Regions from separate parts of the Homo sapiens genome. Here all the other regions are linked to region 3. The links come from fine-mapping of genetic effects on gene expression. A gene starts in region 3. Each other region holds a variant in brackets. All regions are shown on one strand. Distances are from middle to middle.

Region 1 (4,001 bases), 38 kb after region 3:
AGCCACCAGTGCTCCTGCATGCTACTGCTCCACTCACCCTCCCTCTGTACCCCCTTCATCCTCTCCCCGAGACATTTCTCGTCCAGGACGCCTGTGGCCTCCCCATTCCCAGTTCCAGCGCTCAGTCCTGAGCCACACCAGCCTGGCGCCTGCCCTGTTCCTTGCCAGCCCGTCCTCCAGGCGCCCCGTGCTCCCGGGGTCCTCTTTCTCCTCAGCTCCTGTGCTGGCCCCATGAGGGATACCCGGGACTCAGACCTCACTCCTCTCCCGAATTCCCTGGGTGACAGCCTGGGTCATCTGCAGGCTGCCCGCTCCGAGTCATGTCCAGCCTGGATTTTTGAACTCTGCACACATTCCCTGACCCCGCATCCCCTGGCATCTCCCAGCTTTCTGGATATGTTCTGAGCAAACACGGGCCTTCACCTTCCTCCCAGCTGCTCCCCTCCCCTGTCCTTGGGAATTCCGTCCTCCCTCTCGCTCCAGCCGAGCCCTGAGATCCTTCTTGACTTCTCTTCCTTTCTCTTCCTTCCACCTCTGGGAACCTGATGGGCTCCTCAGGTGTCCTCTAGGCTTCAGGAAGCGTCCACAGGCTGCCATAGGGAGGATGAATGGGGAAGGCTGGGGGTGGTGGGTGGTCTGGGACCCTGGGGAAGGCAGGATGGGAGTGCTGGGTGCTGGGCTGCTGGGTGGGCAGGCTGTGGGGTGGGCCTACCATGGGTTGCACTCCTGGTTGGCCTGGCTGACCACTGCCAGCAGAGGATAGTGTTGGCCCAGTCTCTGTCAGGGTCCAACCCGGGTCTCTTTGCTCTGCAGATGCCCTGATGCACCCACCGGCTTACCCACCACCCCCAGTGCCCACGCCCAGGAAGCCAGCCTTCTCTGACATGCCCCGGGCCCACTCCTTTACCTCCAAGGGCCCCGGTCCCCTACTGCCACCCCCGCCCCCTAAGCACGGCCTCCCAGATGTTGGCCTGGCTGCTGAGGACTCCAAGAGGGACCCACTGTGCCCGAGGCGGGCTGAGCCTTGCCCCAGGGTACCTGCTACCCCCCGAAGGATGAGCGATCCCCCTCTGAGCACCATGCCCACCGCACCCGGCCTCCGGAAACCCCCTTGCTTCCGGGAGAGTGCCAGCCCCAGCCCGGAGCCCTGGACCCCTGGCCACGGGGCCTGCTCCACTTCCAGTGCTGCCATCATGGCCACTGCCACCTCCAGAAACTGTGACAAACTCAAGTCCTTCCACCTGTCCCCCCGAGGACCACCCACATCTGAGCCCCCACCTGTGCCAGCCAACAAGCCCAAGTTCCTGAAGATAGCTGAAGAGGACCCCCCAAGGGAGGCAGCCATGCCCGGACTCTTTGTGCCCCCCGTGGCTCCCCGGCCTCCTGCGCTGAAGCTGCCAGTGCCTGAGGCCATGGCGCGGCCCGCAGTCCTGCCCAGGCCAGAGAAGCCGCAGCTCCCGCACCTCCAGTGAGTTTGTGTGGCGGCTGCAAGCCCTGCCTCCAGCTACAGG[G/A]ACCCTGGCCTGGCCTCTGACGGGCACTCTGCCCACCTCGCTCCCCTGGCACTCTTAGCCCACGACGGGGTACCAGGTGCAAGGGTAGGAAGGTTCCCGGTTGCCTCCAGTCCGCCTTGGTGGAACGTGGAGCATGTCCATGACTCAGCCCTGAAGCTTGCTGGAAATGCTTTGTTTTTTTTTCTTTTTGAGACAGGGTCTCACGCTGGCAACCAAGCTGGAGTGCAGTGGTGCGATCTCAGCTCACTGCAACCTCCACCTCCGGGGTTCAGGTGATTCTCCTGCCTCAGCCTCCCAAGTAGCTGGGACTACAGGCACCTGCCAACACGCCCGGCTAATTTTTGTATTTTTAGTAGAGACAGGGGTTTCACTATGTTGGCCAGGTTGGTCTTGAACTCCTGGTCTCAAGTGATCCGCCTGCCTCGGCCTCTCAAAGTGTAGAGATTACGGGCGTGAGCCACCGCGTCCTGCTGAAATGCTTTCTGCTTTATTTCTGGGAAGTGCCAGGAGACCAGTTTGTCCCCCACTCCCACAGAGTTACGCCAATGGCTGTGGTCAAAGGCATCTGGGACCCCAGGTGGGCTTCCTGCCTTGCCTGGCAGGCAAAGGGTCCAGGAACTGGAGGGGCAGGTTTCGCATGGGTGTGCTGGCCGGCACGCGCACCCCCGAATGCCCTTGCCCACGGTGCCCTTCTCCCAGGGCTCTGCGAACACCTCTGAGATGCCTGCTGCCTGTGTGGAAGTGCCTCTGAGCAGCCCTTGTCACACTCGTGGTTCTAGTTCACCAAGGGCTGCAGAGATGCAGATGTTCGGAAGTCACGTTTTTCCATGACTGTGGGGATAGCGGTTCCAGGGCTCAGCCTCACCCACAGGCTGGCCTCCCATGCTGGCGTGGCCCGTTAATCCTCCCTAGAGCCTTTGAGGCTTTGCTGAGCAGGACCGGCTAGCCACACAGGGAGGCGTGCAGGGACGCCATGGGCGTCCTTTGGGGTCACACTGCATTGTTCATCCAGTTCACGTCCACTCCCCTGTGGCTCTGAGTGGGCTGTGATTTGGCCATGACCGGACCTCCCCTCCCCACGAGCATCCAGAGCACTTGTTGACGGTGTGATGACACTGAGCTTGGGAACCCTGGACTCCCTTGCCAGCATCCATGGCAGCCCTGACCCCTGACTCCGGTGTCGGGCGATTCCTGCTGTCCCAGGGCAGTCGGCACGAGCCCTACCCGGATCTCTGTTGTCCTGAGCTTTTTAGGGTCACAGGGGCCATAGCAGGCAGCTTGCCGTCCTCACACAGAGGGTGGAGTGGGGAGGGGAGCAGAGGGTGGCCGCCCCGTGTCTGACAGTGAAATGGTCCTGCCTTCCTCTCCCTGCCCCTCCAGGCGATCACCCCCCGATGGGCAGAGTTTCAGGAGCTTCTCCTTTGAAAAGCCCCGGCAACCCTCACAGGCTGACACTGGCGGGGACGACTCGGACGAGGACTATGAGAAGGCAAGGCTGAGCGGCAAGCCTGGGTCCCAGTGGCCAGTAGGTGGACAGGTGGTGGGAAAGCCATAGGCCAGGGCGGCCCCTCACAGACCGTCCTGAGCAAGGACCCCCCGAGAACCCGGGAGCCTAGGGGGACACAGCACCATGTAAAGCCCCGGATCCCGGCACCGGGTGGCCACCGTCCGGGGAGTGGTGGTGCGGGTGGATCACTCCGACGTTGGCACTGACACCGTCAGCCTCTTGCAGGTGCCACTGCCCAACTCGGTCTTCGTCAACACCACGGAGTCCTGCGAAGTGGAAAGGTCAGCACAAAGCCCTGTGTGTGCTGGGTCCTCCGCCATGCCCGGCTTCCTGCTTCTGTGTCCCTCTCACTAGCTTCCGTGTTGGGGAGTTGCTGGCACAAGTTCATGGCCCTGCGTGCAGCAGAAACCAGAGGAGTGGACCTCCCTGCTCTGTCCCATGCCCAGCTGGCACCCTGGCTGGCCAGGGCTCTGCTGGGCTGCTTCTGTCAGCCTCACGGCAGCCCGACGTGCTCAGCTCCTGAGACCTACAACAGCGAGAGGACAGAAAGCCAGGCTTGGGAGCGGGGCGGGAAGGTCCGTGTGAAAGCTGCCCGAGGAGGACTCACCCGCTAATATGACTGTCTTATTTTAGGTTGTTCAAGGCTACAAGCCCCCGGGGAGAGCCCCAGGATGGACTCTACTGCATCCGGAACTCCTCTACCAAGTCGGGGAAGGTAGGCGCCAGGGGAAGATGCCCCAGGGCCCCTCTGGCTCTCCACACACCCAGGCTGTGGGTGGGCCCAGGACTCCACAGTTCCTAAACCACTCCCCTTGTGGACTCTTACTTGGTGTCTCAGCTGAATTCTCTTCCCAGCAGCACCCCCCAATCTATTCCCTAATAGATCTCCATCTGCAAATTGGGGGCCATGATGGCCACCTCCCAGTGGGGGCCAGGACTCGGGTGGGGTAGGGCTCATGCTCTGGGGTGGCGGAGGCCACATG
Region 2 (4,001 bases), 24 kb before region 3:
TTCCATGGCAAGGGGAATAAAGGCAGCAGATGAATTGAAGTTGCTAATCAGTTACCCTTAAAATAGGGAGCTTTCCCTGGGTCAGCAGGTGATCCCAATGTCATCACAGGGTCCTTCAACGTGGAAGAGGGAGGCGGAAGAGAAGGCCAGAGTAACGCAGTGTGAGAAGGATTTGACCCAGTGTTGCTGACTTTGAGCCTGGAGGAAGGGGCCACGAGCCAGGGAATGCCGGTGGCCTCTAGGAGGTGGAAACAGCCAAGAATGGATTCTCCCCTAGAGCCCCAGAAAGAATGTGGCCCTGCCAACACCTTGACTTTAGCTCAGGGAGACCCCTGTCTCAGACTTCTGACCTCCGGAAGTATCAGAGAATAACTCTGTGTTGTTTTAAGCCACTGAGTTTGAAATAATTTTTTCCTGCAACCACAGGAAACTCATACAGACTGGGGTGAGGTAGGGTTAGGGAAAATCAAAGAGGACCTGAAGACCTTGGCCTGAGCAGTGGGGAGGATGGATCTGCCCTCATCTGGGGCAGGAAGGCTGAGGCTGGGGATGGGGCATTTGAGAGAGCTTGGGACATCGTAAGCAGTGACCTGATTGGTTTCAGCACCCCCAGGGTCTGGCACAGTGCTGCACAGGGGAGGGCCCTCAGGTGACTGTGGAATAAATGAATGAATGTATGATGCATGCATGAATGAATGTTTAGCTGCTCAGTAAATATATGTGGTATGCATGCGTGAGTAAGTGGAAGAGGCTGAGCTGTGACCCCAATATCAGGGGTTGCTGGGGGTGGGGTGCCAGGAGAGGGTTGGTCACAGCCATACCCCTTGCCTGTCTTCAGACCAGCTCTGGGGGAGCAGCCCAGTGGAGGTGTGGCTGCCCCACCTGCTGCCTTCCCCCAGCCAGCCCCCTAGCCCAGTCCTGCAGGCCCCTGTCTGCCTGTGATACAGACTATATCCCCGGGAGCCCTTTCACAAACGCCATTTTTCTCCATCTTGCCCCATTTCCCAATCATAGTTAGGGCCGGGACATCTTCCCAGATGCCCTGGCCCCAGAGAGAGGCTTCTGGAAGCCTTCCTATGGGAGCAGAGGGACCTTAGGATTTGGACAGCCCTGCCTTGGGCCAAGGAGCCAGCTCTCAGACCCTCGGCCTCTTCCGCGAGCCCCTTAGGAGTGAGGGGTCAGCAGAGCAGGGCTGTCCCAGCCAGCATCCCAAGGACGTGGGAGGAGTGACAACCCAGGGGCACTTGTCGGCCTGGCGTCTCTGACAAACTCCAGTGATGGGTGGGTGTGGCACACGGCAGCTGAGGACAGACGAGCACAGCAAGAAGCCTGCACAGCCCCGGAGTGGGAGGGCCTGGCGTGTGGCCTGCAGGCTCTGGTGGCCTTCACAGATCTTTCCTCTCTGTAGCCTTGATGTTTGCGTCTGTTCAATGAAAATTAGCCACAGCTTACTTTTGTCGTGTATTAAAGACATTTGTAGCAAACACCCATGATAGCTGGCGTGTGCCATGCTCTCTGCTGCTCCCAGGCCACCTCATCTGGATGAGGGTGATGTGCCCGTACGGTAGAGGTGATGCCACCTATGAGGGTGATGCCCAGTAGAGCCCTGAGCTGCACAGCCCCTGGGCTAGGAGGTGAGGGTGGCTCTTGGGTCTTTGGTGGCTCCCATTCCTTGTCAGAGCCATTTTCCTCCTCCCAGAAGCCGTCTTCTGGCCTCCTTCCTGTTCAACCCCAGCCCCTCCACACACCGAGCGGGGTGTCTGTATTTCATCCCCACGGAGCCTTCATCTCAGCTGCCAGTGAGGGTTCAGGTGCCATCTGAGGC[G/A]TCTGCTGATAGCCAAGGTGTTACCACTCAACTCCGGTGTTGGGTGATGGCTACAGCGCAGTCTGCAAATTAAGATGTTTGATGGTAAAGAGTTACTTATAACAAAGAGGTTTTTGAAGACAGAAACTGCCGAGGAAGACGAACCCCAGGAGAGATGCTCTTGGGGGCGAGTTACATACCTGGCAGCTCCCGGCAGGCTCCTCCCCAAGTTGAAAAGTCCCTTCAGGTGGGAAGAGCCCAGGGAAAAATGTAGTCCTCACTGAACAGCTGAGAAACTGGGGCTCAGAAGGAAGGACCAACTGCAGCCTTGGTGGTCCCCAGGATAGAGGGCAGGGCTCCCCATGCCCCCAGACCCAGGCCCTCATATTCCCCACCAAAGGCTCAGGAATGTGTGGCTCCATGTAGGAGTGTGGGTGAAGGGGAGCTGAACATAAGCAGGATGGCTAGAAACGGGCAGGGAACCAGATCCCCTCCCCCCACAGCCTCCACCCACAGCTGGGCTTCTGGGCTTCCCCCGCCAGGCCAGACACCAGTGGCTTCTTCCCTGGCGTGGAGCAGACGGAGGGTCTCTGGATGCGGGGGAATATCAGGCTCAGCGGGGCTGAGGTTTCATGCTGAAGGTGGGAGGATGTGATGCACATTTACATGATGCCAAGACCCCAGCGCCGTCCCATCCACCCACCCGCAGTGCTCAGAACGCCGGCAGCCAGACCTCTCCCCTCTATGCAGGGTGTCACAGGGTGTCCAGGGAACCTGATCGGCAGATCACACGGGCGGTTTCCTGCCAGGTCACTGCTTACCAGTCCCTACTCTCCAGCCTGAGAAGCCAGCCGGGATGACCAGACATCTGAGAGATTCCTCTGATGTGGAAGAGAGAGACAAAACAAACAGAAAAAGGACAACTGGAAGGAAACAGAGACTGTTCTGCGAGAAGACAGCTTGGAAAAAACTGTCATTAATATATTCAAGAAGGAAAGATAAAATTTTGTATTTATGAAAAAAGAACTAGGTGCCATAAAGAAAGAACATTTGGAGAATATAAAGAGCACTTGGAAATTAAAAATAGGATCATGGAAATTGAAAACTCAGTAGAAGAGTTGGAAGATAAGATTGAGGAAATTTTATAGAAATTAGAGCAAAAAGTTGAAAATAAAGCCCTTGCAGTGGTGCATGCCTGTCGTCCAAGCTACTCAGGAGACCAGGGTGGGAGGATCACTTGAGTCCAGAAGTTCGAGACCAGCCTGTGCAACATAGCAAGATCCTGTCTCAAAAAAAAAAAAAAAAAAAAAAAAGTTGAAAAAGAAAAAAGTTGAAAATGAGAGAAAAAAAGGAATTGAAGGACCAGTCTGGGACACTTAACATCTACATAATATGTCTAGATAGGGAGAACAAGGAGGGGAGAAAATCATCAAAGAAACAATCCAAAAACATTTCACAGAAATTAAACTCAGCCAGGCACAGTGGCTCACGCCTGTAATCCCAGTACTTTGGGAGGCCGAGGCGGGCGGATCACCTGAGGTCAGGAGTTTGAGACCAGCCTGGCCAACGTGGTGAAACCCCGTCTCTACTAAAAATACAAAAATTAGCCAGACATGGTGGTAATCCCAGCTACTCAGGAGGTCGAGGTGGGAGAATTGCTTGAACCTGGGAGGCAGAGGTTGCAGTGAGCCGAGATCATCTCAGTGCACTTCAGCCTGGGCAACAGAGGGAGACTCTATCTCAGAAAAAAGAAAAAAAAAAAAGAAATTAAACTCAAGTTTCTGGATTGAAAGGACCTGTTGAGTGCTTAGAACCAAGAATGAAAGCAGATGTGTACTTAAGGCACATCAAAGGGAGTTTCAGAACATGGGAGACAAAGAGAAGATCCTGTAAATATCCAGAGAGAAACAACAGGTCCTGGCCAGCAGTGGTGGCTCACGCTTGTAATCCCAGAACTTTGGGAGGCCTAGGCGGGCAGATCACTTGAGGCCAGGAGTTCGAGACCAGCCTGGCTAACATGGCGAAACTCTGTCTCTACTAAAAATACAAAAAATTAGCCAGGCATGGTGGTGGGCGCCTATAATCCCAGCTACCTGGGACGCTGAGGCAGGAGAATCGCTTGAACCTGGGAGGTGGAGGTTGCGGTGAGCTGAGATCGCCCCGTTGTACTCCAGCCTGGGAGACAAAAGTGAAACTC
Region 3 (4,001 bases):
CCCAGCCTGGAGCTCCCTCCGCATGTGGCCTCTTACAGGAGTGACGCAGCCCCATGCGGTGCTAACAGTGGCAGCACTGAACGTCGGATGGGGCTGAGCCCAGCCACTTCCACAATGGCTGTAGTTCCTATCTCTTCCTCCCTGCTAGGAAAATGTGAAATAGCCCAGAGTGGGGGGTGGGCAGAAGAGTTGCAGGCTACCCAATGCTGGGATGAGCAGAGTTGAGACCTGGGGAGCCAGGCCCAGGACACTTACAGGTGGGGATGTGAGCAGGCACCCCAGAGAGTGAGCACCCCAGCCAGCCAGCACCCATCTACTCCCTCACTGGGGTCTAAGTTCAGCCCCGAGAGCTAGGCTGTAGGTGGGTAGAGTCACAGCCCCAGCGCCGGTGTGAGGGGTGGCCCTGGGCCAGGTAGAGTGAGTATCTGCCTGCTGTCATGCCCCATCCACTTCTGCCGCCTCCCCAGTAGAGGACCCCCTCCATTTCACAGATGGGGAAAAGGGGCCCTGTTGTCTGAAGACTCTCCCATATCCTCCCCTGCCTCTGCCATCCCCTGCTTTGTCCCTTCCCTTCCAGAGGCCCTGCCTTGGTCCTGGTCACTTCCTGGTAGGCACTGGCTCTTCCTCTATGCCTGGGCTCAGGGCCTGGCCACCTAGTTTTCTGACTCCTCCCACTTACTCCCCTCCCCAGTTAACCTCTCTGATCCCAAGTGTGTCTCTCCAGCAGGGAGGAGGGCTATTGCAGCCAGGGATCCCCTTTCTGAGGCTTGGGACCCATTATTGGGCAGCTCTGGGACAGGTGGACGGTGACTTGGCCCACACTCGGTCCAGCTGCAACCCTGAGAACCCGCTTGGTTTGGCTGTGTCTCCTGGAGGCCCTCAGGTATTTCAACCTGTAGGACCCAAACCCAGTCCTTCACCTGCTGCAGGGCCAGCCCTGGACACCCCTGCCCCTGCCTGATTTGGAGCAGCCAATTCAGCCCCTGTCATTGGACTCTGGCCTCTTGTGCTCAGTACAGAGGGTCAGACCTTGGCCGCCTGCCTGGACAGGGCCAGGTCACCACCACCCACCCCCAGCTCCCTTGGGTTCCCAGCAAGATCCTGTCCTTCCTCTACTCACAGCTTCCTGGGCTCTGGGACCTGGGGTCCAGTCCCCACTCCTCATGGGGAGGAGTCCCCCCACGCCCCAAGCAGTTGACTCCCGCACTGGTGGGGGGTCCGCTCGCCCTCAAGCTCTGCAGGCCCAGCTTGGTCTCCCCAGCCTCTTCACTTTCTCCACGGCTCCCTCCACCTACCTGGCCCTGAGAGCTCCCCAGGGAAGCCATTTCCTCCCAGGAAGCCCCTCCTCTTCTCGCCCCTGCCCTTACACCAAGGCATCTGGGCCTACTCTTAGGGAGAGGGTGATGGTGGAGGAAAGGGAGCCTCAGAGGAGGCCAAGTGTAAAGCACCCGGTCTCCTGTGCCTCCCAGCCCCAAGACGACCTCTGGGCCACCGGAGTCCAGACCTGGTCCAAGAGGCGAGGTCCCCCTGGGAAGTGCCTGAAAAGTACCCTGGAGGACATTTGGAAACAAAGACAAGGTTTCCTGGTGCCCAGCAAGCCCTCCCCCACCTCCCCTGCTCCTGTCTTGGCCAGGGCCTAAGTCGCACTCACGGGGCAGGGGTGGGGCCGCCCAGGATCAGGACCACGGGGCTGGGGGGGTGGACAGCGCCCTTTCCACCTGGGTCGCTGGGCACTGGGGTGTCACTGGGAGGGACACGCAGGAGGGACAGACACGCTACCTCACTCACGGGCGAGAACTAAGCACCTACTGTGGACCCGGCGTCTAGGCCCGCGACAACGCCAGTCTTCGCCCCCCAGGGGCCTCGTCCCGGGGCCGCGGAGGCCACGTGCAGTTCCCCGCCCACCCTGAGGTACCGGCCCCGCCCCACGCCCAGCTCGGACCTCCAGGATTGCGGGACCCGCCGGGGAGGGGCGGGGCCGGGGCGGGGCCAGGAGGAGGGCGGACTGGGCGGGCGCGGGCGGGACGGAGCTGCGGCGGCGGCGGGTCCCGCGGGCGGGAGCGCCTGGCGGCCGAGTCAAGCCGCCGCCTCGACCCAGGGCCCGCGGGCCAGGAGAGCGCTCGGCGGGTAAGCCTCGGCGGCGGGTCTCGGCGGGTCTCGGGGGTCTCGCGGGGGGGCGGTCTCCGCGTCTGGAAGGGGCTCGGCGGGCCTTGGCGGTCTGGGGGCTCTCGGCGGGTCTCGGGGGTCTCGGGGGAGTCTCGGGGTCCCGACAGGTCTCGGCGGGTCTCGGGGGTCTCGGGGGAGTCTCCGGGGAGTCTCAGGGGTCCCGGCAGGTCTTGGCAGGTCTCGGGGGAGTCTCAGGGTCCCGGCAGGTATGGGCGGGTGTCGGGGGTCTCGGGTGCGCAGCAGCCTCCCCCGGGCCCCGGGGCCTCCGTGTCCTTGCCAAAGGACGCACGGGGCCTGGGCACGGCGGGCAGTGCCCGAGGGAGCGCGGCTTCGGGGCGGGGGCCGGGTGTCCCTTGCCGGGGGCTCAGGGGTGGGAGGCGGTGCGACGCGTCTGTTTCGCACCCCTCGCGCCCCTCTGGCCCCGCGGCGGGGCCCCTTTACGCGACCCTCCCCACAAGACTCAAAGGCTGCGGCGGGCACTCGCTCTCCGCCCTTCCCGGAATCCAAACTTCCCTCTGCAGCGGCCGCGCTTCACGGAGGGCAAGAAAAGCCGCCCACTGGCGCTGATTCACACTGAAGTGTGAGTGACTGATAGCCGGGCGTCTGAGACTCTCATGGGCAACAGGGAATCTCAGGGGTGGCAGAGGGACTGGAGGAGTTAGGGGGCGGGGACAGCCCCTTCCACCTGTACGCTGGCCTCCCTGCAGCCCAGCACTTTCCCGCTGCTCTGGGCCTCGGCTCCCTGGGGGTATTGAGGGCCTGAGCCCTGCTGTGGGGAGCCTTCTGCTGGTGCTCCTTTCCGTGAGCACCTCCTATCCCCTCTCTGTGCCTCAGTTTGCTCATCTGTTGACACTGGGGACAGCTGTGCCTCCTGGTCTAGTGGCCACACTTAAGTCCTTCGAATTGGCTGTGGCCAGGGGCGGGTACTCCGTGTGGGCTGCTGGGGTGGACAGCCTGCCTGGATGACATGTGTGTGGCCTTGCAGGTGACATGGGCCGGTGATGCAATGTGTAGAATTGTTTCCACAACCGCCTGAAGGCAGGGCCCACAGCCTCCTCCTTGCCGAAGCAAGCCTCTGGGTTCAGGTCAGCCCTGCACCAACTCCATGAGCCTGGACAAGCTCCTGCCCTCACTGGCTCAGGCCCTGTGGGACCAGAGGAGGGGCTGGGCTCCACCCCCTCCTGGTTCTTCCCACTCTGTCCACTGTCTCCTCTACGTAGACACCGTCGAAGGGCCCTCTTGGAGCCCAACCTCAGGGCCCCACTCCAGGCACTCCACTCCTGGCAGGACAGGAGGCCTGGGACGAGGGCTGCAAGGGAGTGAGGATTCTGTCTATCCCCTCTCCCTGCCACCCGCCAGGCTCCCTTTGCCTGGCTCTGTGCCCTGCGTTAGGCACACCCTGGAGGGGGCAGGCAGAAGGAAGACAGATAGGCAGCCGTGTCTAGGAACTGCCAGCCAGGGCCATCTGGTGAGAGGGGTGCTGACAGGGGACCTGGCCTTTCAGGGAGTCCCCAGGCCTCCAGGATCATGGGGGAGCCCACCAAGGAGGCTGGCCTGAAGAGGCAGACAGAGGGAGGACAGGCTCTGGGCCTGCCTTGGCCCTTTCTGCCCACATGGACAGAGGAAGCAGGGTGCTGAGTCAGCTGGAGCTCCCCACCCCCCAGGGATGCACGCACACAAGCAGGCCCACAGACGGGAAGTCCAGGGGCCCAGAGAGACGAGATGGCCAGCCTTGGTTCCTGAGGGGCAGGGAGGAAGGGCGCAAACTCAGCCAGGATCTTGGGTGTGAACTCAGATGCCACCAGTTTCCAGCTGTGTGATCATGGCCAGGAGGC
Region 4 (4,001 bases), 93 kb before region 3:
GACTGACTATTGGGCCTGATTGGGAGGCTTTGGGGGAGAAGCCTTGTCCCGTGCCCCAGAAGACTAGAGACTGCTGGAGTGCAGAGAACACAGTGTGTCCTCCATTCAGGAGCGTCCAGCATCGGGGTACCCACGATGGTCCAAGGCCCTGAGACGTCCCATTGGGATTCACTGGAGGCCTCTGGGACGCCTTCCTGAGTTTTCAGGGTACTCTCCACCCCAGGCTCTTGCCCTCTGACCTTGCAGGTGGTCTGAATCCAGACTTGAGGCCCAGCTGAACCTTAGAGGCTGATGTCATAGGCCCTGCCCAGCACCCAGTCCCACCTCGAGGGACCACCTCCTGGTGCTTTCTACGCTGCACCCATTTTACAGAGCAGCTCACAGATGTGTGTTGAGGCTCACTGGCTGGCTGGTTGTTGAAGGGACAGCAATAGTTGACCTATGGACTCTGTCCCGTAGCAGGTCCAAACCGGGGGCCTGTGCTGGGGCAGCCGTTCTGCTGGAGACCAGGGCACCTGCCTTTACATGCTTGTTATTTGTCCATATATTGACAAGGCACGTGTGCTGGATTTAGATCAGCTCTGAGAGGATGCCAACTGGCCAGTGTGTGCCAGCGAGTGTCCTGATGGAGTTGGTCTCTCCTCTGCTCCCGTGCAGGCCCACAGCTCACTCTAGACACTGGACTGCAGGACCCATCCACGAGGTGGCTGCTGGGTGCTGCTCCTGACATACACATGGAGAAGGATGTTAAATAATTTTTACTTGAATTGTCAAATGAAATTTTTAATAACATACCATTGTTAAATTTTTATCATAATTTTTAAGTTTTTCAAAAGACAAGTCAATTTGCCTGTTTAAAATATTGTGAAAAATAATTTACACTTGGGGAGTACTTTTCTATTTCTCTAGGAGAAATGCTTTTGGCAGAGTTTCTCATAAGCCCCAGCATTTCTAAAGGTTGGTGGTGGGTGGAGCCGTGCTCCTAACACTGATGACTCTCATCTGCTTTCTGAACACAAAGAACAGTTTCCATTTGTGCCCCTGGAGTTTGTGTGCATCACTACTCAAATGCTGTCTTTACTTGGGATGAAAATTAATTTTCCATCAAGTTGGACAGTGAGTCATTTGCTCTGTCACATCTGTCACACTAGTGAAAATATATGGCACTTCTGTTTATCTGCTAGGGTGGGAAGAAGGAATTTCTAGTTCTTTACTACACATTGCTTTTTGTGGTGCCATCACAGCTCATTGCAGCCTCAACCTCCTGGCTTCAAGCGATTCTCAAACCTCAGCTTCCCAAATAGCTGGGACCACAGTCGTGCGCCCTCACATCCAGCTAATTTTGATACTTTTTGTAGAGACGGGGTTTTGCCATGTTGCCCAGGCTGCTCTTGAACTCCTAGGATCACAGGTGTGAGCCACTGCACCAGCCTGGTACACATTTCTTACATTCCCTGTTCAAGTGAATGCATTAGCCTTCGCCTGGAAAGGTGGGTTTGCTCAGAGTTCTGGCGGCACGTGTACAGCCTCAGTACTGCCCGGGCAGTCTGTGGTATTGGTTACATCATCCACTCGGCCAGGCGGCATGATGCCCTGCCGCACCTGTGAGGGGGTAGCTGACTCCCTGGATGTGTGCTTTGCAGCTGC[T/G]TTGTCCTTGGTTACTGTGTTTAGTACCAGGTCAAAGGCTATCGGGAATTTTTTGTTAACTACCACCCCCCCCCCCACACACACACACACAAATAAGTAAGCATATACTTTAGTAAATAGATGAAGTTTAACAATCCTGCAGAGTAAGAGAATTGGAGGTGGGTGTGTGTTAAGTTTTGATTTATTACAGCCTCTTCAGAGTTTATGTTCCATATGTGATTCGTTTTTGAAATTATCTTAGTTTTTCTGTATGACTTAATTTTTAGCACTCACTGTAGTCTTAAATTGCCTTCTTTTTGCATTGGCAGCTGGAGGAGAAAGCTCGCCTAGAAGCAGAGGCCAGGGCCCGGGAGCACCTGCACCTCCAGGAGGAGCAGAGGCGGCGGGAGGAGGAGGAGGATGAGGAAGAAGAGGAGGATCGTTTCAAGGAGGAATTTCAGCGGCTTCAGGAGCTTCAGAAGCTAAGAGCTGTAAAAAAGAAGAAGAAGGAGAGGCCAAGTAAAGACTGCCCCAAGTTGGACATGCTCACTAGAAATTTCCAGGCAGCAACAGAGTCTGTTCCTAACTCTGGAAACATCCACAATGGCTCACTAGAGCAAACTGAAGAACCAGAAACCTCTTCTCACTCCCCATCCAGGCATATGAACCACTCAGAGCCCAGGCCAGGGCTAGGGGCTGATGGGGATGCTGCAGACCCCGTCGACACCAGAGACTCCAAATTTCTCCTCCCCAAGGAGGTGAATGGGAAGCAGCATGAGCCACTCTCTTTTTTCTTCGACATCATGCAGCACCATAAAGAAGGAAATGGCAAGCAGAAGCTGAGGCAGACCAGCAAGGCCAGCAGCGAGCCAGCGAGGAGGCCCACAGAGCCCCCCAAGGCCACAGAGGGGCAGTCCAAGCCCCGGGCCCAGACTGAGTCAAAGGCTAAGGTGGTCGACCTCATGTCCATCACAGAGCAGAAAAGAGAGGAGAGAAAAGTCAACAGTAATAACAATAACAAAAAGCAGCTGAACCACATCAAGGACGAAAAGTCAAACCCAACCCCTATGGAGCCCACCTCTCCCGGTGAGCATCAGCAGAACAGCAAGCTGGTGCTGGCAGAGTCCCCTCAGCCAAAGGGCAAGAACAAGAAAAATAAGAAGAAGAAAGGAGACAGAGTCAACAATTCAATTGGTAAATACAGAATAGCGGGAAGGTATTTCTGAGCGATGCCTGGTTTTCCATGTGTGATGTGCTAGTATAGGAAAACACTGGGTTTGGCATGCTCTCGCCATGTGGCCTCCCTCCTGTAGAAAAGAGCGTAGAGGGGCCAGGCATGGTGGCTCACACCTGTAATCCCAGCACTTTGTGAGGCCAGGGTGGGCAGATCACCAGAGGTTAAGAGTTCGAGACCAGCTTGGCCAACATGCTGAAACCCTGTCTCTACTAAAAATAACAAAAAAAAATTAGCTGGGCTTGGTGGTGCACCTGTAATCCTAGCTACTCGGGGAGGCTGAGGCAGGAGAATCGCTTGAACCCAGGAGGCAGAGATTGCAGTGAGCCAAGATCATGCCGTTGCACTCCAGCGTGGGTGACAGAGAGACTCCATCTCAAAAAATACATATAGAGAGAGAGAGGATTTCTACCCCCTCCAGTTCCCCAACTTTAGTTCCCCAACATCAGTATTTCCCATGTTTGCTTCGTTATTCTCTCTCTCCCTCTCTCTCTTATTTTTCTGGACAGAAGGAGAGTCACTTCATACATGATACCCCTTTAACCTAAAATACTTCCATGTATATTTCCTCAAGATAAAGACACTTATAAAACCACAGTACAGTGATCAAAATGAAGAAGTTGACACTGATCCAATGCTATTCTCTAATTGTAGACCTTACTCATGTTTCTCCAATTGTCCTTTTAACATCCTTTATAGCAAAAAAAAAAAAAAAAAGCTCTTGTTGTTTCTCCTGACATGGGATCCAATCCAGGATCCCATGTCGTATCTCTTTAATTTCCTTTCCTTTGGATCGGTTTCTCTGTTTTTCATGACCTTTACTTTTTTGAAGAGTGCAGCGCATTTATTTTTTAGAGGATCCCTTGGTCAGGGTGCATGCCCCATGTCTTCCCAGTCAGGTTCAGATACCATGTTTTGGCGGCAACACCACTGATGTGGCCAGTCCCTGTTGGTATATCCCACCAGGAAGTGGGTGACGGTGTCTGTCCCATCACTGGGGATGGGAACTCTGATCCTGGGTTGAGCTGGTCTGCCCATTTTCACTACGGTCAAGTTAATATTTCTCCTTTGCTAATTAGTAAGTGTCTTATGGGGAAATGAGTATCCTGTTTTTATTGAACATTCACCGACTAGTTGTAGC
Region 5 (4,001 bases), 32 kb after region 3:
AGCAGCCTTCGTGCCCATCCCCTGTCCTCCCCGCCCAGCCTCCACAGTGCCTCGCCCTCTCCGCGTGTCCTGCCCTCAGGCGCAGGACCTTGGGGGTGCCAGGGTCTTCCTGTGGCTTTGTGCACAAGTCCCAGAGGCCTGGACAGCCTGCTCTCCAGAGTCTCCACTCGGCCACCACCCAGTGACTTCTGCATCTCTCCTCCCTCCCCACCTTGCCCCTTCACCCACCATGACCTCTTTCCAGGCAGCCCAGACCCCAGCCAGCCCAGGCCCTGTCCCAAACAGAGGCTGGGCCCTAGGATTCCCTGCTCCAGGGTCCTCCCAGGCCGGGATCAGTTTCCAGCTTCACGCATGTCCTGGGCTGGGCTCTATCCAGTGATGGGCCATGAGCTGCCCTGGAGGGCCTTCTGCACTAACAGGCAGGTGGGCGGTGGCCAGGTGGCATGTGGGTGGGGGAGTGCACTGGCACAGCCCATGGCCTGGGGCCCACACAAAGGGTTAATGCTGGCACCCAGCTCTGGTTCTGGTTGCTATCCCATCGGAGCCCTGCACCCCACAGCATTTATCTATGCCTCTTACCACCCCTTAAGGGCCCAGCCCCTCCTGCCTATGAGGAACCAAGGGTCACATGGTATCAGTAGTGGAACTGGGACCTTTGGAGTGACTCTAGGCCCCGGCCTGCACCCTGGCCACAGGCCTGGTAGGGCAGCCTTGCCAGAGCACCCAGCCTGGTGCCAGGCCCCCATGCTGGCACAGAGCTCCGGGGTCCCCTGGGGAAGGTCGTTCCCTTTCTGCAGACAGACACAGCGCCTTCCGGCCTCCAGCATGTGCCAGCCATGCCATGAACCCTGGGCCCAGTGGCAGATGCAATCATGCCCCAGGGAATTGTCTAGCCCATCAGGGAATGCTGGGCCTGAGGAGTTTTGGCCAGGCTCTTATGGGCCGTATAAGTGCACCTGCCCCGGTGCCTGGCTGGCAGGGCTCCCCACGTGATAAACTCAGCGCAAACCCCACATCCTGGCTGTGTGAGTGGGCCGCAGAGCAGGCACGAGTCATTCCCTGAAATGCACTCAGGGCTGCTGCTGGGCCTCAGGGGCACGGAGCCCTGTGGGGTACCCCAGGGAGGCCAAGCAGGCCTGGGCAAATGGGGCCAGAGGTGGGAGGGTGGCGTCCATGTAAAGTGGCATTGGCGGGCATCGAGGCAGGTTTGTCCTTGTCTCCTGTGCACTGCTGCTCCCACGAAGCCCACCCAGCACCCCTCTTCCATGCCCCTCCATGCCCCCTTACGCCTGCCTGGGCATGAAGCTCACTACTGGGAGCATCAGCAGCCAGGGCCCACCCGATCTGCCCTCTTCCGTTGGGGCGTGGTGCTGGTGCCGAGACGTGTTCACAGGGGGGTGCTGTGGGAAGGCCATCCCTATAGCTGTGAACCAGGCCGTGACCCCTGGCGCTGTGCCCCCAGGGTGATGCGGGCGGCTGAGGAGACCACGTCCAACAACGTTTTCCCCTTCAAGATCATCCATATCAGCAAGAAGCACCGCACGTGGTTCTTCTCGGCCTCCTCCGAGGAGGAGCGCAAGGTGACTGGGGGTCCGAGGACGAGTGCAAGGTGACTGGGGGTGTGGGCCTGCAGGCACCAGGCTGGACCTGCCTTGGGGGCTCGCTGGTCCTGGGGCGCTGGCCTCTCAGCCCCGGGCAAAGAGAAGGTGTGGCTGGGACACAGGCAGCTGGGTGGGTGCTGCCCCAGCTCCATCCCCATGCCCAGAGCCTGGTGCCAGCGCCCACACAAGGAACATGCTGTCCTGGGAGGTGCCCCTGTGGGCTGAGGGGAGCCACACAGCCATGTTGTATCCAGCCGGGTCGCCTCCTCTGACCTTGGGAGTCACAGCAGAGCAGGCAGGGCAGTGAAGGTGGAGGGGTGCGGTGGGGCCCACCCT[G/T]GTGGCACCGTGCCCACCACAGCCCCGCTGACCTGCAGAGCTGGATGGCCTTGCTGCGCAGGGAGATTGGCCACTTCCACGAAAAGAAAGACCTGCCCTTGGACACCAGGTGAGCCCGGGCCCAGGGCATACCGGGCAGTGAGGGTCCCTGGGGCGCCTGGGCCTGACCCGGGTGTCCGCCTCCCAGCCCCGGGCTTGGCATAGAATTCCGTCCTTAAAGGTTTCCTGGAGGTGCCAGCTGGGCTGCGTCTCTCTGCTCCTGTCTACAGATAAACACAGATACAGGACAAGCACAGATGTTCACACACAGACGAGCGACACGCGGACACGCACACACAAACACAAGCAACACGCGGACATGCACACACACAGAGCAACACGTGGACATGCGCACACACACAGAGCAACACGTGGACATGCACACACACACAGCAACACGTGGACATGCACACACACACAGCAACACGCAGACATGCACACACAAACACAGAGCAACACACAGACATGCACACACACACAGAGCATGCACAGGTGTGCATGCATCTCTCTGCTCCTGTCTACCTCCAGCCCCATCTGTCACATCTGTTTCTGTGTTGCCGCCATGGGTAGTTCCTGTTAGGGGATCATGTGTGTTTATACGCCTGCCACCAGGGAGGCCTGGCATGGCAGCAGCTGGGCACTTTGGGTTCCCAGCCCCCTACGCCCACCCTGGCTCACTCAGAGTGAGACCAGAATGATTCTCCTGGCGGGGCGCCACTGGGCAGTCTGAGCCTTGGCAGCCTCCCCCGTGAGCTGGCCCGACGTGCAGCAGATACTCTCTGGATTGGGACTTCCTGGCCCGAGACGATGTGGAGGGAACAAACCTTCCTGTCCTTTCACAGGTGGGGACAGGAGGCCCAGGGAGGGCTGGGCACAGCCAAGGCTGCCCTGCAGGTCCCTGCCTGACTCCGGGCTCCCGTCCCCTGGTCCAAGCTGTTCAGCCTCGGGCCCAGCCCAGAGTCGCCCAAGCCCTCTTGAGGCAGGAGCAGGTGGAGACGTGGGCACAGTCAGGGCGGCCATCCTTGTGGGCCAGAAGGGGCACCTAGTGGAGGCACCACAGCCTCCAGTTCTTCTGTCTGTCCTTGTAACTGTGTGTGCATGTCCGCGTGTTGCTCCGTGTGTGTGCATGTCCGCGTGTTGCTCTGTGTGTGTGCATGTCCGCGTGTTGCTCTGTGTGTGTGTGTGCAATGTCCACGTGTTGCTCTGTGTTTGTGTGTGCATGTCTGCGTGTTGCTCTGTGTTTGTGTGTGCATGTCCGCGTGTTGCTCTGTGTGTGTGCATGTCCACGTGTTGCTCTGTGTTTGTGTGTGCATGTCCGCGTGTTGCTCTGTGTGTGTGCATGTCCGCGTGTTGCTGTTTGTGTGTGCATGTCTGCGTGTTGCTCTGTGTGTGTGTGCATGTCCGCGTGTTGCTCTGTGTGTGTGTGTGTGCATGTCTGCATGTTGCTCTGTGTGTGTGTGCATGTCTGTGTGTTGCTCTGTGTTTGTGTGTGCATGTCTGCGTGTTGCTCTGTGTGTGTGTGCATGTCCACGTGTTGCTCTGTGTGTGTGCATGTCCTCATGTTGCTCTGTGTGTGTGTGCATGTCCGCATGTTGCTCTGTGTGTGTGCATGTCCGCGTGTTGCTTGTGTTTGTGTGTGCGTGTCCGTGTGTCGCTCGTCTGTGTGTGAACATGTGTGCTTGTCCTGTATCTGTGTTTATCTGTATACTTCCATGTCTGTGTGACAGAGTCCTTGTGTCTGTGTGTCTACATGTCTGCGCGTGTCCCTGTGTCTTTGTGTATATATATCCATGCCTGTGTGCCTGTGTTCCTGCGTGTGCTTGTGTGTGCACGTGTGCATTTGTGTGTTTGTCAGAGTATGTGTGCATGTGTGTGTCTGTCAGCGTATCCATGTGTGCATGTGTGTGTCTGTCAGCGTATCCGTGTGTGCATGTGTGTGTCTGTCAGCTTAACCATGTGTGCATGTGTTTGTCAGTGTATCCGTGTGTGCATCTGTGTATCTGTCCATGTATCCGCGTGTGCCTG
Region 6 (4,001 bases), 20 kb after region 3:
GCTCCTTAGCCTGGGAGCTGCCTTTTTTGAGTGACCCGACACCTAGGCTATGGGACAGCTTGGGACCTGCACAGCCGGTTACGGGGCTGGGGTCCAGGGTTTGTTGGGAGGCTGATTTCGGGGGGCCGTGCCCTAGGAAGCCTGGCGGGCAAGATGAGACCCCTGCAGCTTTGTGGCCTGTGCTCTGTGGCCTCTGTCACCCTCAAATCCTGCTGTGAGGGTGGCCCCAGGCCCCAGAAAGCCCCTTTCTCCAGCTGCCTCTGCCCAGGGGTCCTGTCCTCCCTGGGCAAGTTCTGGGAGGAGAGGGAGGGCGCTCAGCAGCCAGTGGCTAGAATCCCCATTCCCTGCTTCCGGGCTCTGGGCCTGGGCAGGGCACTGGGCTTGGTGGGGGCAGAGCAGCCCTGGGAGGGGCCGAATTCTGAGCGGGCCTTGGGGCAGGGGCCGGTGAGTACGGGAGCGTGCTTTGCCACTCAGCCATAATGTACTTTCTAGCAAACCAGATGTTAGCAGAGCTGGTGTGGTTGCGGGGACGTGAAAAGGCTGGGGATAGAGTAGGAATCGAGGAATGCCAGAGCCCAGGCCTAGTCCCTCAGTCCCTTGGTGTCAAAGGGCACAGAGATGGCCACCTTGAAATTCATAGAACCGGGTGCAAGACATAACAGCCCTCTGTGTGGCCTCAGATGGCAGAGCAGGGTGGCAGCAGCTGCCCTGGCAGGAAGAGCATGCTGGTAAGGTGACACCATCCCTGTGTGTGTTGTAAATGCTGCTCTGTGCTGGGCCTGACACCCAGGGTGCAGGTTGTTTCATGGTTTGCTAGGGAGAAGCCGAGTATTCAGAGGTGGCCCTGCGGGGAGGCAGCAGGGAGCTTCCTCCCAGGGATGCAGCTGACCTTGCGCTGGAGCCAGAGAGCCCTGGCCTCTGACCACAGGATGGGAGGGCAGGAGCAGTGGAAGGTAGGAGTTAAAACCCGGATGGTGGATGAGGGGCAGCCCTGGGCCCCAGGCAGCTTTCAGGACCTCACAGGGTAGAAGGCAGGAAGTGCCGGCTACTTGGTGCTGCCCAGGGAGCAGGGAACAGGAAGTCCCGGGTGGGGAGGAAGCACCGGCGGCCACAGGCCTCAGAAGCAGCAGGAGTGAGCTGTGGGCACAGCTGTGGGGCAGCCAGGCGCGTCAGGCCTCACATGTCTGGGAGATGTAGGCTGCCTGGGCTGGTGGCCCCTGAGCCGCATGGCCTCCCTGGGCCCCAGGACACCGGCCCCGAGCAGGTCACGAGGACGGAGGGCCATGTGTTGGGTCAGCACCATCAGGTCAGTGGGGCGGCCCCAGGACTGGGGCTCGGGAGGCGGCACTGGTCTAGCACCTGAAGAACCAGTAAGGGGGCCCCACGTGGGAGCCACAGCCTTCCTCGGGGCTGGCCGTGGGAGCCCACAGGAGGTGGCCCTGAGCCTGCAAAAGGCAACAGGCTCTGAGGAGAGTGGCCTCTGTCTGCCTTGAGAGGCCCCCGAGCTGGCAGGCACAGGGGGAGGCCAGAGAGGGAATGTGATACTTAGAACCCCCCCCACCCCCCCATCACATGCGGCCGACAGGGAGGCGGGGGCCAGCCTGCTGGGGTGGGGCCCAGGTCCGGGAACTTCTCATGATACAGCCTGCAGGGTGGCCTTGGTGTTTGGGTCCTAAGTACACACGTTGTGTATGTGAGTGTGTGTTTCTGTTGTGGGGGGGTAACGGAGAGAGCTGTACAAGGTCCCTGCTGCCCACCTGGGGAGTGCCATGCTCTGAAACCTGCAATGTGGAGGACCCGCAGGGACCTCAGGGACTGCCGGGCTGGGGCTGTGCTCGCAGAGCCCAGGCTGGGCCACCCTGCCCCTGGCCAGCAGTGCTTCTCTGGCATAGCTGGTTACTGGGCCTTTACGGGAGA[A/C]TTTTGGTTTTGATTATGTTAACAGAGAAAGATTCTGGGAACAGGAAGGAAACAAGGGAAACCGAAAAGGAAGAGCAGACAGCTGTGGGGAGGCAGGGCAGCCAGGGCTCCAAGGTGGAAGCCGCCCCATCTGCACATCCCACGCCCACCACCGGCCACCCACTGTGCGCCAAGCTGGGCCGTGGCTGTGCTGGGCCGGGGGTGGTGCGTGAGCCACCATTTACTGGCTGTGTGACTTTGGCCAAGTTTCTTCGTCAGTGACTTGGGGAGGACTCTGGTTTGAAGCTCAAGGTGTTGGATGATGGGGCGATCACTGAGAAGCACAGAGCTTGGCCCACAGGGAGTGCCCAGTGCGCTCGGCACAAGGCCTGATCCTCTCCCAGCCTCTATACCCAAGTCTGTAAAATAGAAGTAAAGTATTGAGCTCAGGTGGACCCTGGTCGATTTAGTGAGCTGTGAGGTACAGCTTGGCACTGGGCCCTGGCAGGGCTGGGAGTGGTGGTGATGATTCTGTGCTCAGGCTTCAGGACACGGAGACACAGAAGACCGCACTTGACAGGTCTTGTTGGTCGTTGGAGGCTGTGTGTGTGTGAATGAGTGCTTGCATATGCATGAGTGAGTGTGATGAATGTGTATATCAGTATACATATGGGTGTGAGTGTGCACGTATGAGTAGACATGAGTGCATGAGTGTGTATGAGAACATGAGAGCGAGTGGGCATGCGGGAGAATGAGTGTGTATATATGTGTTAGTGTGGATGGTGTGAGTGTTAACTGTACATGCATGAGTGTGACAGGATGCGCATATATGAGCGTGTGAATAAAGTGCACAGGGTGACCTGGTATCTTCTCCCTTTGGGCTGGATCCCCAGCCCCAACTTGCCCTGTGGCTCCCACAAATGGGGCCAACCTGATCACCACTAACAGTAAGTCCTTGACCCTGTGGTCACATGAGGTGCTGGCTCCCTTACCACAGCCAGGATGATCCTGCAGGAGCCCAGCCTCCCAGAGCCCCCACCCTGCTCCTATGCAGGGGCTCACGCCTGTGTGCATGCGAGCTGTGCAGCTCATGTGCACGTCCTGTGTGAGTGCACCACCTGTGACATTAACTGGGTGTGCAGAGACACAGCGCACATGAGGGCCTGCACAGGCCATGACCACACACGCCACAGGGCTCATGGGGCCCCAGGGTGGTGGGAGCCACAGAGCCTGCATTAAATGGAACCCGATGGGGTGTCTCTGTGGGACTGAGCACTTTTCACCTGACTGCTCTGCCCCCCACCGCAGCAGCCTCAGGCCTTGGGGTCACCTGAACCAATTGCAACTTTGAGAGAAGGTAGGGAGATGAGCACAGAAACAGAGACCTGGAGAGTGTATCCCAGGTGCCCCGTCTTCCCTAATGTGCATGTGCACACACACACACACACGCACACACGCACAAGTGTACAGGCTCAAATGCAAATCTCCACGTGTGCACACATGCAAAGATCACATACTTTCTGGAAGGGCTCATGGAGCCCAGCAGCCACCACCAGCTTTGGCCGCCCAACGCTGGCCCATGTGTCTCCAGAGCCCTGCCCCAGAGAGCAGCTGCAGAGGTGTCAGGGGACTCTGAGAGTGGACTCCTCCATACCCACTTTACACTGGAGGAGGTGGGGGCTCAGGGGAAGGAGGGGCCCCAGGAAGGATGTGAACCCAGATCTTCAGCACTCTCCCTCACAGCTCCTGCCCATGTTAACTCAGCCGACACCGCAGCAGCATGGTGACAGGTCCCCCCAGGGTGTCTGCCTCTACAGAGGAAGGGACTGAAGCACCCAGAGAGCTGGCAGGTAGGCCTGTGGAGTCCCCTGGAATGAATGAATGGAATTTAACCATCAGGTCCCTGGAAGAGGGGCTGGGCACTGAGAAGCACAGCCAGGGAGGCCTGGCCAGCTAGGAGTGTGGGTGCTCCTTGGGGATGCCCCCTGGTTTTCCCGAGCACAAGTGGGGCCAGATTCTGTGAGCTGGGCTGAACTTCCCCAAGAGCAGCATGGTCACCACGGCCTCCATGGCCCATCATCACCCTCAGCCTCAGCCGACCTTTC

Alleles and levels. Alleles are on the strand shown, and positions count from the first base shown. SD is a standard deviation of normalised expression in the study named. Not every link is listed here.
For the expression in thyroid of the gene that starts at base 2,074 in region 3, allele G in region 2 goes with a higher level than allele A (small effect, 0.29 SD a copy in GTEx).
With allele C in place of A in region 6, the expression in fibroblasts of the gene that starts at base 2,074 in region 3 is higher (moderate effect, 0.45 SD a copy in GTEx).

Evidence for each region. PIP is the estimated chance that this variant, and not a neighbour inherited with it, causes the effect.
Region 1: its variant is fine-mapped to the expression of SH3BP2 in whole blood (TOPMed, PIP above 0.99).
Region 2: its variant is fine-mapped to the expression of SH3BP2 in thyroid (GTEx, PIP 0.99).
Region 4: its variant is fine-mapped to the expression of SH3BP2 in whole blood (TOPMed, PIP 0.98).
Region 5: its variant is fine-mapped to the expression of SH3BP2 in whole blood (INTERVAL, PIP 0.93).
Region 6: its variant is fine-mapped to the expression of SH3BP2 in fibroblasts (GTEx, PIP above 0.99). The same link has a PIP of 0.9 or more in whole blood.

The regions. Positions count from the first base shown.
Region 1 is chr4:2,828,680-2,832,680 of GRCh38, forward strand. It overlaps SH3BP2 (SH3 domain binding protein 2), which reads left to right. Exons shown (of 13, transcript NM_001122681.2): 8 at 814-1,468; 9 at 2,892-3,000; 10 at 3,244-3,299; 11 at 3,652-3,733. Among named protein-coding and RNA genes, the nearest start is that of ADD1, 13 kb to the right of the region's middle. The variant G/A (reference allele first, on the strand shown) is at 1,512.
Region 2 is chr4:2,766,650-2,770,650 of GRCh38, forward strand. All of the region lies in intron 2 of LOC102723763 (a long non-coding RNA gene), which reads left to right. Among named protein-coding and RNA genes, the nearest start is that of TNIP2, 12 kb to the left of the region's middle. The variant G/A (reference allele first, on the strand shown) is at 1,826.
Region 3 is chr4:2,791,012-2,795,012 of GRCh38, forward strand. SH3BP2 (SH3 domain binding protein 2) reads left to right here and starts at 2,074. Exons shown (of 13, transcript NM_001122681.2): 1 at 2,074-2,127. RefSeq lists a silencer at 1,792-2,141.
Region 4 is chr4:2,697,725-2,701,725 of GRCh38, forward strand. FAM193A (family with sequence similarity 193 member A) reads left to right here. Exons shown (of 21, transcript NM_001366318.2): 19 at 1,956-2,820. Among named protein-coding and RNA genes, the nearest start is that of TNIP2, 57 kb to the right of the region's middle. The variant T/G (reference allele first, on the strand shown) is at 1,648.
Region 5 is chr4:2,823,151-2,827,151 of GRCh38, forward strand. SH3BP2 (SH3 domain binding protein 2) reads left to right here. Exons shown (of 13, transcript NM_001122681.2): 4 at 1,463-1,580; 5 at 1,976-2,046. Among named protein-coding and RNA genes, the nearest start is that of ADD1, 19 kb to the right of the region's middle. RefSeq lists enhancers at 2,799-3,685, 3,686-4,001. The variant G/T (reference allele first, on the strand shown) is at 1,938.
Region 6 is chr4:2,811,172-2,815,172 of GRCh38, forward strand. All of the region lies in intron 1 of SH3BP2 (SH3 domain binding protein 2), which reads left to right. Among named protein-coding and RNA genes, the nearest start is that of SH3BP2, 20 kb to the left of the region's middle. RefSeq lists enhancers at 705-1,789, 974-1,213, 2,164-2,263 and a silencer at 2,974-3,023. The variant A/C (reference allele first, on the strand shown) is at 1,918.